Regions from separate parts of the Homo sapiens genome. Here region 1 is linked to region 2. The links come from fine-mapping of genetic effects on gene expression. A gene starts in region 2. The other region holds a variant in brackets. All regions are shown on one strand. Distances are from middle to middle.

Region 1 (8,318 bases), 220 kb after region 2:
TGGAGCTTTCCCCTCAGAGGAATCCAGTCTCTGCTTGCATATCCCCAGGGTTAGGAAGCTCATTCCTTTGCATACCCCTAGGGACAGGGAGCTCACTCTCAGGCAGCCCTGTCCTCTATCTCCTAAGCACAACTCCTGCCCCACCCCTCAGGCTTCCAGGGCCTGGCTTGGGCAACACCTCCCTCGTATCCCCAGACTCACATAGTGTCTGTCTTCACTTTCGTTGTAGGCCAGCCTCACCACACCGTAGGCACCCTGCAGATAGGCATCAGTCAGCCCCACCTGGACAGGGCAACCCCTCCCAGGACCAGCTCAGGAGGTGGGGAGCCGAGCAGCTCTGGTCTCTCCTGCACCCCATCTGCACTACCCACCACCAGCTGGCTCACGGGCAAATATTGTAGCAGATGGGGAGGGGACTCCTGCGCCCTGGTAACTGCCCCTGCTTGGCTCCACATGGCTCCATGCCTCCCTCAGTCCCTCCTTGTCCACTGTCAAGAACTCAGAGAGTCGGGAATCAGGAGCCATCTTCCACCCTCCCCCTGGGTACCTGGGTACTTCCCACAGGGCACGAAACTGTCCTCACCTCCAGGCTAGGACTTGCCTGGCTCTGCCTCCCGTTCCCTCCCACACGAGAGAAGGAGCAGCGCCAAACAGAGAATCCCGAAGCCCCCACTGCTCTCGGCCTGCCCACTCCTACCTTGCCAATCTCACTCTGCAGCTTGTACTGGTTCAGCTGCACGCAGTCCTGTGGGGGAAGAGCGAGCACCAGGTGGAGCTGGGTCCGGAGGCAGCACTGCTCCTACCTCAGAGCCCGTTCAGGGTCCAATTCTGGCCATAAGCTCCTCATTCCCGGACCCCCAGGTCTCACCAAGCTTTTGAGTTTGGATGGGGAAGTTGGTGGTGCCATCGCCCCCGTATGTGACGAGAAGACGTGGCTCATGTTTGAAAACATGGATGGTGACGCCATGGCTGTGCCTTGTTCCCCAGAAGCAGTGGTGAAGGGAAAACGCTAATTCCTGTCTGGATTCTGGAGTCTGGAAGACCCTAATCCATGAGAAACCCATGAGCAACTATTTCCAGAAGCAGCTGAATGAGAAGGTCTAGACTCCAAGGACAAGATGAGGAGCCCTGGGCACAGAGGCTGAGAGCCTGGGTTCAGGCACAGAAAGCTCAGCCCCTGACATCTGTAGACTGCTTGGAACCTGAGTTCACTTTCAGACCTAAATGGCAAGAACTCCAGCAGAAGCCCAGAGGCTGGAGGCAGGCCGGCCGCTTCTGAGTCACAGCAGACTCTAAGAGGCAGAATTAGAGGCGAGGGGTGCAAGCTGGAGAAGAGTTAGGGGGGAAGGGGGACATAGCATCTATCTTCACATCTCTAAGAAGACTACATAGGGGACCAGGGAGAGACCTATTTCCTAGGCCTGGGCTGGGAGTGGGAATAGCAGGACTTAGGGAAGGCAGCCTTTGGCTCAGCTGGAGCTCCCCTGGTTGGGAAGAAGCTATATTGTTAGGTAGTGATCTCCCCAGCTCTGAGGGTATGCAAACCAAAGCTAGATAGCCGTGTGGCACAGACAGGGGCAGGAAAGAGTCTTCATTGCAGACTACTGAGGGGCTCATGAACAACCCCTCGTTCTGCCCCACCAACCTCTGCATCTGAGATGGCCACGTGGTGGGACTCGATGGTGGGCCTCCGCCAGGCCCGGGGGGAGATGTGGCTGGCAGGCCCCGTGGCATAAGGCCCAGCCTGCGCCTCCAGATAGCTTCCTGCTGGCCGCTCCTGTAGGGAAAGCTTCCTGGCTGAGAGGCTAGGCCGGGCTGGGAGCAGTCTTGAAGTACTGCCAGGGATCACAGAGGCAGCTCTGGCCCGTGGTGGGGGGTCCACACCGTTTCTAGTAGGCTCTGGGCCACCATCTGCCTCCTCCAAGTGAGTCACATCGATGGCTGCCACCCGTTCTACCAGCTCTGCCCGAGGATCCTGGCAGCAGACAGCTGGACCCCCCTCCATTGCTTCAGTCAAGGGGGTTCTTCTGCGTAGCCTTGTTGGGAACCTGAGAAAAGAAGGCAGAGAAGGCTTCACTCCTGGGTGTCAGGCTGGCTACCAGGTAAGGTAGCCACAGCGCTGTGGGTCCCACCTCCATGCCTTTGCCCTGGCTGTTCCCTCTACCGGGATTGCCAACACCCAAACTCAAGTCTGTCCCTATGACCTGAATGAATTCACATCGGTTCTGCCGCATGCCAGCCCTCTAGGCCTCAGTATCCCTGCCGGTAACAGAGGCAGTCACTTCTGCCTGCTGGCTTCACAGGGAAGCAGAGAGAATCTGATATTCTGGAATCAGGACAGACAGGGCAGAAGCCTGGAGGCCCAGCAGCACTGGAAGGGGCAGAGCCCAGGGTCAGCTCAGCCCCAGCACAGCATGCAGCCCTGTGAGTCATGAGTCCCAACCCTTGACAGCAGAGCACTCCGACACTGCCTCCTGGAAGCTGAGCTAGACACTAGTAACTCAGAAGCCTTGCTGATGCTTCAGACCCACCCGCCTCCTCCAGGGAGCCCTCCTTGATGTTTCAGCCTCCTACCCCCATCCCTCTCACTGCTTCCAGGAAGACTTCCCTGGGGCTCCCGACTCCAGCCAGCCCTGCCTCATTGACGTCTGTCAAAACAAGGGGATGGGCCCCACATGGTGGCTCACACTTGTAATCCCAGCACTTTGGGAGGCCGAGGCAGGTGGATCACCTGAGGTCAGAAGTTCGAGACTAGCCTGGCTAACATGGCAAAACTCTGTCTCTATTAAAAATACAAAAATTAGCCAGGCATGGTGGCGTGCACCTGAAATCCCATCTACTCGGGAGGCTGAGGCAGGAGAATCGTGTGAACTTGGGAGGTGGAGGTTGCAGTGAGCCAAGATCACGCCACTACACTCCAGCCTGGGTGACGGAGCAAGACTCGGTTTCAAAAAAAAGCAAGGGGATGAGAATGAGGGGAATGAGGGGTGAAACAGGGGCATGACATCCCCTGAGACTCATGTTCTCAAACTCACTGTGTGGCGGCTGAAACATCAGGGAGGTGACCCCCAGCCCTCACCTTCAGCCATGACCCTGGGCTACATCCTGACCCCGGACTGAACCCTGACACTCAGCCTGAGACCCCCATCTCTGTCCCAGGCTTGTAGAGCGCTGGCCATGCCCAACCTGATGCCCTTCCCCCTGCTTGCGCTGGACTCTGCATGTTCTCAGGAGAAGGAAGTGAGTGAACTCCTGACCCTCCATCCTTCCTGTCTGCTGGTAACTTCCTCCGAACCCACACAGCAACTGAGAACATGGGTCTCAGGGAGACCCAGAGTACGCATGGTGAAGCGCCTGCTCTACCGCTCGTTCCCCATCCCCTTGCTTTGACAGATGTCAGCGAGGCAGGGCTGGCTGGAGTCCACCGGCCACTGAGGAGCCAGGACTGGGTTCCAGTCCTGCCTGCTGACCCACCAGGGGCCCTAGACCAGCTCCTTCCCGACTCTGAGCCCCAGTCTCCCGACTTGTCCTGTGGATTCCCTGCCTTCCCATATTTTCCAGGCTCACAGCAGGGTTTGGAGGTAGACTGAGGGTAAGGGTGAGGTCCAGACCCCCTGTGCCCGGTACGCAGTGTGTTGAATGAGTAGAAGCCTGGAGGCGGTGGGGCTGGTGCTGACATGGAGAAAGGAAGAGAGGAGGCTCCACACTAGGAACAGGAAAAGTCATGGAAGCTGGACCCAGAGGAGTGAGAGGGAGTTAATGAGGCTGGAACATCAAGGAGGCCTCCCTGGAGGAGGTGAAGGAGGTGAGGAGGCTGAGTGAGGCTAGAGTATCAGGGAGGCCTCCCTGGAAGAGAGGGCAGGAGACAGTGAGTGCGGCTGTGGCACAAGGAGGCCTCCCTGGAGGAGGTGAGAGGGGACAGGGAGTGGGGCTGTGGCACAGGGAGGCCTCCCTGGAGGAGGTGAGAGAGGACAGAGAGTGGGGCTGTGGCATAAGGAGGCCTCCCCAGAGGAGGTGAGAGGCTGTGGCATAGGGAGGCCTCCCTGGAGGAGGTGAGAGGGACAGTGAGTGGGGCTGGAGCTTCGGGGAGAGCTTGGAAACCAGACAGCATAGGAAGGAGGAAGCCAAAGCTGGGAACACCCTCCAGGACCCGCCAGGCTCCTCCCAGCAGGTGGCCCACCCCTCCGCCCCTTCCCCTCACTCCGCATGCCTTGTTTTTCCCTCCCGAATGTAAGTTTCATGAGATTAGGACGCTCATCTGCCTTGTCTCCAAAAGATCATCAGTGCCTGGCATGTGATAGGAACTCGATAAATATTTGTTGAATAAATGAGTGGTTGCCATAGTGATCGTTACAGCCCTGTCCCCATTAGACAGATGAGAAAGCAGCCTCAGAGAGGCAACCCCAGCAAGCCTCAGGCCCCAGCACATATAACAGAATGAACTCCAGAGTCAGGAGCTCCTGCTTTTTGGCCCTAGGCAGGGACTACGGGACTCAGAGCCGCCACAGGCAGAAGCCACAGGCTGCCCGGGCCCATAAAATTTGCGTATTTCCTTGAGGTTGCCATTCCAGCAAGAGGCCATCCTCCTTTACCCTTGAACACCTTTCCCTGCTTTTCTTAGATAGGTAGAGGGAGGCCCAGCGGGTGGGGATGGGCCCGGGGTCACCCAGCAAGTCGGGGCAGAAGGTTTCCTGTTCCAGCCTGAGCCCTGTTACCCGGTTTGGCGCCCAGGCTCTGAAGCCAGGCAGCCAGGCTGCACCCTTTCCTGGCTGGGAGCCCGTGAGCAGGTGGCTTCGCCTCTGTGCCTTGGGTTTTCCTCGCCCGCAAGATGGGGTTCTAGCGGGCCTCACCTCACCGCACGTGGTGAGATGCTGAGGAGGGAACGCCCGTAAGGCGCTCAGAACAGTGCCTGCCACTAAGGAGGCCGTAAAAGTGAGTTGTTGTTGTGCGGCTGCTGTTGTGATTGCTCGGGACACGCTGAGGCCCAGATGGATGCGC[G/A]GGCGGGCGGAAGGCGGCCGCGAGGGCTGACGTCAGGCTCCCCATCCCTCCCTCCCGCCTGGATCAAATTCAGGTGACTAAGCGCGTCTGCGAGGGAGGCGGCCGGCCGGGGAGGCCCGAGGTTCCTGCCGCGTGTCCGGGAGACAGGGCCTGGCGCCCCGGCCGCGTGTGTGAGGGCGTGTGTCCCCACAGGAGGGAATATGTGTGCGCAGGCTGTGGACCAGGGTGGTGGCGTGTGTGTGTGTGTGTGTGTGTTGTGGGTCCCCACACAGGAGCGCACTGCATGGAGATGAAAACCTCGGTGTGATGTGTGTGTGCGCAGGTGTGTTTATGCGCCTGTGTGCCTGCAGGTCTCCGTGTACCTATGCCCAGGGTAGGGGGGTGGTCCGCGCCCCTGGGGGCCCTGGGAGCCTGATCCCAGAGCTCATATCTGGACTTTTCCCCATAGTCACTGGTCCCACCAGCCTGGCACTGCCTGCTGGGCTGGATTCTGTGCCCCGGGCGGAAACCCAGGCCCATCTGGAGGCTCACACAGGGGGTGTCTCAAGGCCCTTCCCAAGCTCAGGCCTTAGTAGATACTCTGTAGAAACTTAATTCGGTGGATAACTAGGGCCATGTGGGCAAACAGAAAGATGGACAGACAGGCCGGGAACCAGGCCCATGGTACAGCGAAGGATTCCTGTGGGCATGGGCACTGGCTTAGTCCTGCGGCCGTGAACAGCCAGACTCAAGCCCTCCCTCATTGGGAAAAACTACTGCAATCCTGTCCCCCCAGACTGGGGATCTGCTGCCTCGGACAAGTCATCGAGCCTCTTGGAGCCTCTGTTTCCTAACACGTGCATCAAGCAGAAGGCCACTGTCCTGCCAACTCCCAGGGCGATGGAAGGAACAGAATGAGGTGTGGACACAGGAGTAGTTTGTGCCACAGCACTGTGGGGCTGGGATGTGGCTGTGTCTAGAAGCGTCCAAGAGAGCCTTGATGTGCAAGGTCCAACCCCACCTCTGCCCCCAGCTCCAAGATGGCCTGGCACATATCCCCCACCCAGGTTTTTCCTCCCAGGCTGTGCCCCACCCCCCAAGCGTCTGGCCACTCCCAAGGAATGTGGGCCCCCGGCTCCAGACGCCCACTTGGCCTGGCTTCTTCCACAGGACATGCCCCATCCAGCTGCATCCCTCAAAGGAGCCCCAGAGCAGGCAGACCCTGCTGCCATCCACGCGGGTTCAAGTAGCTCCACCTGGGAGCTGGTCAGGCCCTGGTCAGGCCTCATTCTGAGCGCTGGAAGGCCGCTGTGAACCCCAGTGCCAAGCCGAGGCAGGGGACCAGCTACATCCAGGCGAGGGGATGGACAGCCGTGACCAGCAGAGGACCGAACAGAAGGGAAAGCCGCAGAGGTGGCGGCCACCCAGGCCAGACACAGAAGGTGGTCCTCCCATGCCTGGGCCGCCTCACTGGAGCTGTGTTTATGATCCTGGCGAGTATCTGGATGGCCCTGGCAACGGGTGCCCTCCGCAGCTCCCGCCCCCACCCGGGATGACTCAGTCCCCTTGAGGGAGGCCCAGGCGTCTGGTGCCAAGTCATGCTTGACGACTCCTGCTGTGAGGACGCCCGCTCCCACCATCCCTGGGGAGCCCCCAAGCACCAATACGGGCTGTTGCCTGACTCAGCACAGCTACCCCCAGCGCATCGTCCTGGCCCACCCACGGAGGCTGATGGTCTCCAGGCCTCATCCTCTGCCCCTCCTCATCCTCCACACCAGGTCTGTGCCTCCAGCCCCACTCTTTCCAGCTAGCTGCCACCTCCCCGTCCATGTTCCCGAGCAGCTCAGATCCAACAGGCCCCAGATTCAACTCAGCATCTTCCCCAAACCTGCTCGTCCTCCTCTGTCTCCATTGCGAGACGGGTACCACACCCTCCCCATTCTTTCCTGACCCAGGTCAGCAATCCGGGAGCCCTCCTTGTCACTCGTCCTTTCCCTGTTGCCCACCCTTGCTCCCCACAACCCCACACTTACTCTCCACTGCAGCCACACCACAGCTTCCCAAATTGCATACTCTGTTCTGCTGCCAGGCCTCAGTACAAGCTGTGCCTTCTGCCAGGAACACACCTCCCTCTCCTCTGCTGCCTGGAGGACAGCTCAGACATCGCCTCTTCTGAGCCCTCCTTGATCTCCCCACTACCTGCTGGGTGAGCTCACCAAGTCAAACCCCTTAGAAGTCCAGATTCTACCCACTGCTTCGTTTCCCACTATGTGGGTCTTCCCTGACTCCAGGCTAACACCTCCACCCCACCCTACCCCATCCTCCACACCAGCTGCTGGAGGGATTTCCAACATGCAAATGTGGTTATAGTTCTCCCAGACCTGGCCTTCCAGGAACTCGGAATGTCATGGATAGAGGAGCAGAAGTGGCCTCAGACTGGGGGCAAGGTTGGGGGGGGGGTCACAGGCTAGGGAGCAGCCAGGGACATGGACGCCTGGGATGCAAGCACAAATAGTCACGGAGCACCTGCTGTCTGCCAGACTCTGTGCAAGCCTGTGTGGGGAGATACAGCAGTGAACCAAAAAGACCAAGTCTCTGCTCTCATACAGTTTAATTTCTCGTGGGGGCAAGAAGCAACAAACAAGAAAGCCAGTGATTCAGATATGATATGTCAAGTGGTACATATAGGAAGAAAAATACAGCCGAGTAAGAAGGATCAAGAGAAAGGGGCTGGGAGATGCTGCTGATACAGTGTAGTTGAGGAAGGCCTTTTGGGAGCAGGACTGGAGCAGACACCTGAAGGAAGGAAGGGGCAGTAGGCAGTGTAGTTATCTGGGGAAGAGCATTTCAGGTGCAGGGACCAGCAGGTGCAAACGCCATGAGGGGACAGTGCTTGCTCAGTATGAAGAACAGCAGGGAGGCTGACGTGGCTGGAGTGGAGTCTTCCCCACATAAGAGGCACCTGATAGCAAGAGGAGTTACATCTGGAGAGAAAGCCCCCTCACTCATTGTGCTGGCCTCAGGGATGGCTTCCTAGAGGAGGTGGCACCTGAGCTCTCTTCTGAGCACTGAGCAGGATTTCAGGATGAGGCGAGGATGGAAGTTTGCACTGTGCATATAGGAGAGTCATTTCCTGGCTGGGACTCCGGGCTTGGTTTGGGGGTGGGGAGAGCTTGGTGGACAGAGCCCAGGAGGCCCCCAAAGCCAGGGGGAGGTTGTGAGCAGGGGAGTGCCTCGGTTAGGTGAGGTTTAAAACGACTCCCATGGCTGCTGTGAGGACTGACGGTGGGAGACCGAGGAAGAGGCGAAGGGTCCCCAGAGTGTGTGCGCCTGGGACGCAG
Region 2 (8,318 bases):
GGGCAGCTCCCCACCCCCAAGTGCTTCAGACCTGCTTGCCCAAACCTTGTTTCTCCTCCTTTGGGACACCTGTTACCTGCATGATCTTGTCTCCAATCTGCAGCCCAGCGATTTCAGCAGGGCCTCCTTCAGACACCCGTGTGACATAAATACCCTGGAAAGGGGCAGCCCAAGTCAAGCCCTGTGGTCACTGGACTGGCCCCTTATCACACAGCGGAAGCCAGCATGGCACATTCTCAGCCGTCCCTCTGTCCCTGCACCCAGCCTCTCCCAGCACATATGGTCAGTGAGGACTGTTCTGAGAGAGCCGGGGCAGAGTTGCTGCACCACCATGCACCGGCCCTGCTGATGGCCGCCTCCTGCTCCTCCTGGGCTCTGTCTGAGCAGCCCTTCCTCACCCCACCCGTCCTTATTCTCACTAGGTCACTTCCGATGCCTTCTTAGAGAGCATGGTTTGAGAGATGAAGTCTGTTCCTTCCATGCAGGCCCAGGAAGCAGAGACCCACCATCTCAGGCCCCTGTGCCCCATGGAGCGGTCCCAGGACCCCAGACCCCCTCACCTTGTCCGTCTTGTCTTCAGAGAAGGGATTCTGGGAAGGATCCTGGTCGATTCCACCTCCAATGCTGAAACCCAGGATTAAGTTCTCACCTTGACGCAGCTTGTGAATTTCAACTCTTTGCTGGCAAAGAAAAAAGCCAGTTGAGAGAAGTGGGTGGTTGGAGAATTAGGCTGGTGGGTGTTCCCAGCAGCAGCCTCAGAGCCATGACAAGGGGCTGGGTCCCAGGCCCCTGCAGGAATCCAGCTGCTCACCAGCCTGGGAGGCTGAGGAGCTGGCACTCAGAACTTGGCCACATTGATCCACCCACACAGCCCTGTGTCCTCAACCTGTCCCCACTTCCCCTGTTAGTCTTAGGCACTAGTCTTGGTCAACATGTGGTGGAAGCCCCTGCTGGCCCAAGAGTCCAGGTGCTGTGGCTTCTGTAGGTGGGAAGCCCGTCTCACAGGAGGTGCTCTGGAAAAGCAGAGATCAAACTTGCATAGAAAGGAGAGGAAGGGGTTTCCTTTCGGCCGGAACCGCCATCTTCCAGTAATTCGCCAAAATGACGAACACAAAGGGAAAGAGGAGAGGCACCGGATATATGTTCTCTAGGCCTTTTAGAAAACATGGAGATGTTCCTTTGGCCACATATATGCGAATCTATAAGAAAGGTGATACTGTAGACATCAAGGGAATGGGTACTGTTCAAAAAGGAATGCCCCACAAGGGTTACCATGGCAAAACTGGAAGAGTCTACAATGTTCCCCAGCATGCTGTTGGCATTGTTGTAAACAAACAAGTTAAGGGCAAGATTCTTGCCAAGAGAATTAATGTGCGTATTGAGCACATAAAGCACTCTAAGAGCCGAGATAGCTTCCTGGAACGCGTGAAGGAAAATGATCAGAAAAAGAAAGAAGCCAAAGAGAAAGGTACCTGGGTTCAACTAAAGCACCAGCCTGCTCCACCCAGGGAAGCACACTTTGTGAGAACCAACGGGAAGGCGCCTGAGCTGCTGGAACCTATTCCCTATGAATTCATGGCATAATAGGTGTTAAACAAAAAAAAATAAAGGATCTCTGGGCTCCAAAAAAAAAAAAAAAAAAAAAAAGAAAGGAGAGGAAGGGCTTGCCGGCCACGGGGACCAGCGCACAGGGTGCCGTGGATACGTGTTCGTGAGACTGGAGTGTCCAGTGCAGGACACAGAACTGGGAGGCGAGATGAGGCTGAAAGTGTAAGGCTGGGGCCAGATCCCGTCCTGGAAGGGGAGCAGGGGTGTCTCCCTAAGCCCCAGACCCTGCTCTTGTGCAGAAACGAGTGTTCTGGGGCATTCCCACCATGCTCTGGGGTGTTCCCACCATGCTCTGGGGCTATGGTCCCCAACTGTGCCAGGTTCTTTTCAAAGCCCTTGGCAAGCGCCGTCCAGTCAGCAGATGCTGGGAGCCAGACCAGATCACTCCCAAAGTCAAGTTTTAACAGGAAGGAGAAAAGAAAAAAGCAGAAGACCACAATCTAGACTAGACCTAAAGAAGTTTCCCAAAGGGAGGATTATTTGCACCAGGCTTTGAGGGGGTGATGGGTAGCCTGACCTTGATCCTGAACCCACTGGAGTTCTCAGGAACGGAGTAGGGTAGGGCATGGTCAGGTTTGCTGCTAGAATGACCACTCAGGTAATCAGTAGAGGAACGGACATCTCACAAAAGCAAGGTGCAGAGGCCGGGGGACATGGAGCTACCTGAAAATGGAGATCTACAGACTTAGGGACCACTCATGGAGGAGAGGAGTCAAGAGGAGCACCCAGCCACCGTGCCTGGCTGAACACACATTATTCAGATGGGGACCCAGGAGGAGGAGGAGCAGGTTAGGTTGGAGTGCCAGGAGCTGCGGGGCAGGTGTCCAGAAGGCAGATGGATCTATGGAGCCAGGGTTCAGAAGAATGGCCTAAATGTCTTTAATATTCTCAGGATTCTACATGGGAGAGGGTGGGGACTGGGGAGTGAGCCTGCCCAAACCCATCCCCAATCCAAGACTCGAGGGAGAGGCCAGACCATACACACCATGTCCAGGCACGTTCCTGGTGTTACCAGAATTAGGGGGCATGGGCCTGCAGTTTTGGGGAAGGCCCTGGGACCAGTTATGGCGTGAGGGAGGGGGGCAGGAAGCATGAGGCCTACTGTGCCTGGGTCCTCATGCCCCAAACTGAGCTCCTCCAGGCCTGCTCTGCCGGCACGGTCAGAAGATTACAGGCCCTTGGGTTGGGAGACAGGGCTGTCACTGATTTGCTGGGTGAGGTCACGCAGAAGGTGGCTTGCTGTAGCTCCTCACCTGTCCCTGCCCCCCTTCTACCTAAAGAGCAAACCTGGTGCCTTCTCTCTGGGGCAGGTAGGGATCTAAAAAAGCCAGGCTGGGCCGGGTGTGGTGCCTCACGCCTGTAATCCCAGCACTTTGGGAGGCTGAGGCAGGTGGATCACCAGAGGTCAGGAGTTCAAGACAAGCCTGGCCAACATGGTGAAACCCCGTTCTACTAAAAATACAAAAATTAGCTGGGCATGCTGGTGCATGCCTGTAATCCCAGCTACTCGGGAGGCTGAGGCAGGAGAATCGCTTGAACCCAGGAGGCGGAGGTTGCAATGAACCGAGATCGCGCCACTGTACTCCAGCCTGGGCGACAGAGCAAGACTGTCTCAAAAAAAAAAAAAAAAAAAAAGTCAAGCTGGTGCAGGGAGGGTGAAGCTTAGGACAGCTGTCAGCTGGTCCAGCAATGTTTCCTCCTGGCCCAGGCCTGAGCCAGTGCTCTAAGCTCAGCCTCACTTGTCGCCTTTATCAGTGGCTTCTCTGCCTCCACCCACCTGATTGCTGGAGCTTCTCCAGCACACCCAACTGAGATAACACACCCAGTCCCTATGGCTCCAGGGCGGGGACTTTCGCTTGACCTACTGCCCACCGGGCAGGCATTTCTTCTCATTCTCTGAACGCTGTCGGGAGGTAGGCAGGAGACCTGAGTCTTTCCTGAGGTGGTCTTTTCTGGCTGAGCACTTCTCTCTGGGACTCCCCACCTCTGTCATAGGGTTGTGTCCCTCTGTGACACCGGCGTCTGAGTCTAACGTCCCAGCCTTCCTTCCTCCCTCTGCCTAGTCTAATAGCACCCAGCACCTAAAACAAGCCAGAGGGCGGCCAGGGGCCTAGGCTAGCCCCCGGAGGGTCTACTCAGGACTCAAGTGCCAGGAGGGAGGCCTGGACTTTTTTGCCTTAAGGGCTGGAGACCCAGGAAAAGTTCGAAGAGGAAACGCTCATCGCAGCTATACGAGCGTCCACCCTGGACCAGGCGGCGAGTGGGTTGGAGGAGCAAGGCTGGACAGGAAGGGGGCAGGGGCTGCCACGGCAGGCTCGGGAGAGCCCCACCCCCAGATCTCCCTCCGGGCGGCGGCGCAGGCTGCAGCGGAGGAAGCATTTCCTCATTCCAGAGGCTGCGACTCATGGACGTCGGGATCGGCGCCCGCCCCCAGCAGCTCCCCGTCTGGGGACACGGAGGCCCGGGAAGGGGGCGCTTTTCCAGGCTCCTGCAGCCAGGCCTTTCCCCGTGGCCCTCCCCGCCCTGCGCACGCAGTCTGGGCTCTGTCCAGGGTCTCGGGAGGCTCTCGGGTCCCGGCCATCCCTGTTTCGTGGCTGGGGGAACTGCGGCCCGCTCCGGCAAAGCGGGGACCCGAGCCCTTGCCGCCGGTTCGCAGGAGCCCCGGGTTCGATGCTCTGTCAACCTGCTTGGGGTGTCCGTTTCCCGCTCTGCGAGGTGGGGTCAGGCCAAGACGAGGAGGAGCCCGCGCAAGCGCACTCACCACCACGGCGGTGACCGGCTGGCCCGGGATGTAGGACATCTCGACCCTGCTCTGGTCGCCCAGCGCCGCTCCGAGAAGCCGGCAGCAGAGTACCCGCGGTCGCGCCCTCGCTGCTTAACAAAGGCCGCCCCGCTCGGCCCGCCCCCTCATGAATAGTTAACAAACCTCCAGCCAATCACTGGCCGGAGCGCCACTCCGCTTTCGGAAGTCCCTGCGCGTGCGCAGAAAAGCGGGCAGAGGGCGGAGCGTGTCCGGGGCGCCCACGGCGCAGGCGCGGAGGGCGGGGCGGGATCTGGGCGCGTGCGCAGCCCGAGACCTCCCGGCAGTCTTCCGAGCAAGATGGCGCCGCGGGCATTTCTTCCACTGCCCGTCTGAGGGAACGCTAAGTAGTGTGTCCGGCGCCGTGTTCCAGGTAACTGGGCCACCGTGGCCGGGGAACGCAGACGCGCCACCACCTCCCGGCCGGCCCGGACCCTCAATCTCCTCGGCGTCTTTGGAAGATCCGAGGCCCAGGACTGGTGCCAGGTCTCGGAAGCTCCAGGGGGAGGGGGCGGCGTGAACCCAACTCACCGAGCTCCGGGCGCCACTTGTAACTTGGTTTTCTCCGCAGCTCCGCGTTGTTCCGCGAGAAAGCGAGAGGCCGAGCCCGGGCTGGTGCGATGGCCGCGGTGGTGGCCAAGCGGGAAGGGCCGCCGTTCATCAGCGAGGCGGCCGTGCGGGGCAACGCCGCCGTCCTGGATTATTGCCGGACCTCGGTGTCAGCGCTGTCGGGGGCCACGGCCGGCATCCTCGGCCTCACCGGCCTCTACGGCTTCATCTTCTACCTGCTCGCCTCCGTCCTGCTCTCCCTGCTCCTCATTCTCAAGGCGGGAAGGAGGTGGAACAAATATTTCAAATCACGGAGACCTCTCTTTACAGGAGGCCTCATCGGGGGCCTCTTCACCTACGTCCTGTTCTGGACGTTCCTCTACGGCATGGTGCACGTCTACTGAAATGGGGGCCCGGGGGACTTTTTTAAAAAACCAGATCGGGAGGACTGTGGCCAGCAATTAACACCATGTAGACTTCCTTAGTTCTTAAGTGGTTGAATTCGCTGCTTGTTCTGTAACGTTATAAATAATTTATATCTGAAGACGGAGAGCCTGTAATATTCTTCAGATTAAATGAAGCGTGAGACACTTTGTGGAGTTCTTTCCTGCTGTAACGCTTAGGCTGCCACTGATGCAAAATCGCCGAGATTTGACTCCTGGAGAGCAAGGAATGGGCCATAGCCTTGTGTTAAGTCCTTGTATTTACACATAGGCCATTCAGAAACGGGCCCTAAGGGCCTACATAAGGAAAGAACTTATTAACATCCTAAGAAGCAGTAACAGTTAATATGTATTAAGAGCTCCCTGGGCCGGGCACGGTGGCTCATGTCTGTAATCCCAGCACTTTGGGAGGCCGAGGTGGGCGGATCACCTGAGGTCAGGAGTTCAAGACCAACCTGGCCAACATGGCAAAACTCCGTCTCTACTAAAAATATAAATATTAGCCGGGTGTGGTGGCGCGCGCCTGCAATGCCAGGTACTCGGGAGGCTGAGGAAAGAGAATCGCTTGAACCCTGGAGGCAGAGGTTGCAGCGAGCCGAGATCGTGCCACTGCATTCCAGCCTGGGTGATGGAGCAAGACTCCGTCTGTCTCTCAGGGAAAAAAAAAAAAAAAAGAGTTCCCTATATGCTGGCATTGTGACTTCTACTCTACACCGATCCTCTCATTTAATTTTAGCAATAACCTTACAGGGTAGATGTTATTGTTAGCTCCCTCGTAAGGAACCTGAGGCTCAGAGAGGTTAAATACTTCTCCCAGAGGAGATACAGCTAGGAAGAGACAGAGCCAGGATTCAAATGCAGGTCTCTTAATTTGCTCTTGATATGTTTGCTGGGTGTACCTTTCACAGGCCAGCGTTCCCTCCCACTAACCACTACTTTCAGGTATATATGGTGTCATTTTAGTTCCATTTCATTTAGTGACAGTCCTTTCCATAAGAAAAAATAAAGTCAAGCTGTATTTTTTAGAATATGTCTAGGGAAGATTAAACATTGTTTGGACATTTAGGCTGGGCACAGTGGCTCACGCCTGTAATCCTAGCACTTTGGGAGTCCGACGGCAGGCAGATCACCTGAGGTCAGGAGTTTGAGACAAGCCTGGCCAACATGGCGAAACCCCATCTCTACTAAAAATAAGATGCAAAAATTAGCCAGGCGTGGTGGTGGGCACCTGTAATCCCAGCTACTTGGGTGGCTGAGGTAGGAGAATCGCTTGAACCCTGGAGGTGGAGGTTGCAGTGAGCCAAGATCATACCACTGCACTCCAGCCTGGGTGACAGCAAGATTCCATCTCAAAAAAAACACAAAAATTGTTTGGACATTGAAGTTGAACTTTGGGCAGGTTTAGGGTGTAAACACCTCCATGTGTTAATCCATGATCCTTTCTTGTCAGGAGGGTTATTTTAGAATAAAACGCATTTGTGGCCGAGCACGGTGGCTCATGCCTGTAATCCCAGCACTTTGGGAGGCCGAGGTGGGCAGATCACCTGAGGTCAGGAGTTCGAGACCAGCCTGACCAACATGGAGAAACCCCATCTCTACTAAAAATACAAAATTAGCCGGGTGTGGTGGCACAGGCCTGTAATCCCAGCTACTAGGAAGGCTGAGGCAGGAGAATCTCTTGAACCTGGGAGGCAGAGGTTGCGGTGAGCCGAGATCATGCCATTGCACTCCGGCCTGGGCAACAAGAGCGAAACTCCCTCTCAAAAAAAAAAGAATAAAATGCATTTGTTTAATTGAGGAATAAATATTGCATTAGAATGACGGTAATTGCCTGAGTGTAGTGGCTCCTGCTGTGATCTCAGCACTTTGGGAGGCCAAGGCTTGAGCCCAGGAGATCAAGACCAGCCTGGGCAACATAGTGAGATGCCCATCTCTACAAAAAAACATTTAATTAGCCAGATGTGGTGGCATGTGCCTGTAGTCCCAGCTACTCAGGAGGCTGAGGTGGGAGGATCAGGATCACCTGGGCCCGGGAGGTTGAGGCCACAGTAAGCCACGATTTTGCCACTACACTCCAACCTAGGCAACAGCGAGACCCTGTCTAAAAAAAAAAGAAATTACAGTAATGAAAATGATGGTGCTCATTGGATTTATGGTTAACTGGGGAAACCAGCATCACCTAACTTCAGAAATACTTAAATCATGGTGAGTACTATGAAGAGGACATAGCAGACCTAGCCCAAGTTGGGGTATATGGAGGTCAAGGAAGTCTTCTCTGAGGAAATAACATTACATCTGAAACCCAAAAGTTGAATAACATAGGCAAGTGTGGGGAAGGAGTTACCTTCAGGAAAGCGCATGTTTCCAGGCCATTGGGCAGGAAGGAATGTGACTGTATTTAGAGAGTGAGAGAAGAGGCCACAGGGTAGACCCAGACCAGATCATGGAGGGCAGTAATGGGTGTGGGGACATGCGCCTGTAGTCCAGCTACTCAGGAGGCTGGAATGGGAAGATCAAGATCACTTGAGCCCAGGAGGTTGAGGCTGCAGTGAGCTCCCATTTGCCCTGGCCTTGATCCTCAGAGCAAATGGGGGAAGCCTTTGGAAGTTTTTAGTCTGAAGTGACGTAATCACATTTGGATTTTTTTTAAAAAAAGAATCTGTTTTAGATTGGAAGGGGATCTGAGAGCTTGAATCCAAGTCCCCTTTTGACAGATCATAGATAGCCCATGGCCAGTCATGGAAATGGATCTGGGACCCAGACCTGTTAAATTCCGTTTCGGCTTCAGGAACACATGCACACGACGCCAAGGAGAAGCTGAGGCCATAGCGTTGCCCCCCATCTCAGTGAGCCCTTTCTCTGCCCCCACTGAAGATCCTCAGTGGTTTGCCCACCTCAGTCCTCTCAGAACCTCCTCT

Alleles and levels. Alleles are on the strand shown, and positions count from the first base shown. SD is a standard deviation of normalised expression in the study named.
For the expression in CD4 T cells of the gene that starts at base 4,694 in region 2, G is the high allele of the variant in region 1 and A is the other (large effect, 1.8 SD a copy in BLUEPRINT).

Evidence for each region.
Region 1: its variant is fine-mapped to the expression of EMC6 in CD4 T cells (BLUEPRINT, PIP 0.95).

What each region holds. Positions count from the first base shown.
Region 1 is chr17:3,883,683-3,892,000 of GRCh38, forward strand. It overlaps CAMKK1 (calcium/calmodulin dependent protein kinase kinase 1), which reads right to left. Exons shown (of 16, transcript NM_032294.3): 2 at 1,646-2,048; 3 at 698-745; 4 at 202-255. The coding sequence starts at 2,005. Among named protein-coding and RNA genes, the nearest start is that of CAMKK1, 5.2 kb to the right of the region's middle. RefSeq lists enhancers at 4,391-4,910, 4,911-5,432. The variant G/A (reference allele first, on the strand shown) is at 4,999.
Region 2 is chr17:3,664,119-3,672,436 of GRCh38, forward strand. It overlaps EMC6 (ER membrane protein complex subunit 6), which reads left to right and starts at 4,694. Exons shown (of 2, transcript NM_031298.4): 1 at 4,694-4,781; 2 at 4,980-5,547. The coding sequence starts at 5,029. The coding sequence ends at 5,361. TAX1BP3 (Tax1 binding protein 3) reads right to left here and starts at 4,460. Exons shown (of 4, transcript NM_014604.4): 1 at 4,370-4,460; 2 at 561-680; 3 at 77-154. The coding sequence starts at 4,408. P2RX5-TAX1BP3 (P2RX5-TAX1BP3 readthrough (NMD candidate)) reads right to left here. Exons shown (of 15, transcript NR_037928.1): 12 at 4,940-8,318; 13 at 561-680; 14 at 77-154. It also overlaps the pseudogene RPL21P125. RefSeq lists enhancers at 3,254-3,785, 3,786-4,316, 4,849-5,379, 5,380-5,910 and a silencer at 4,408-4,747.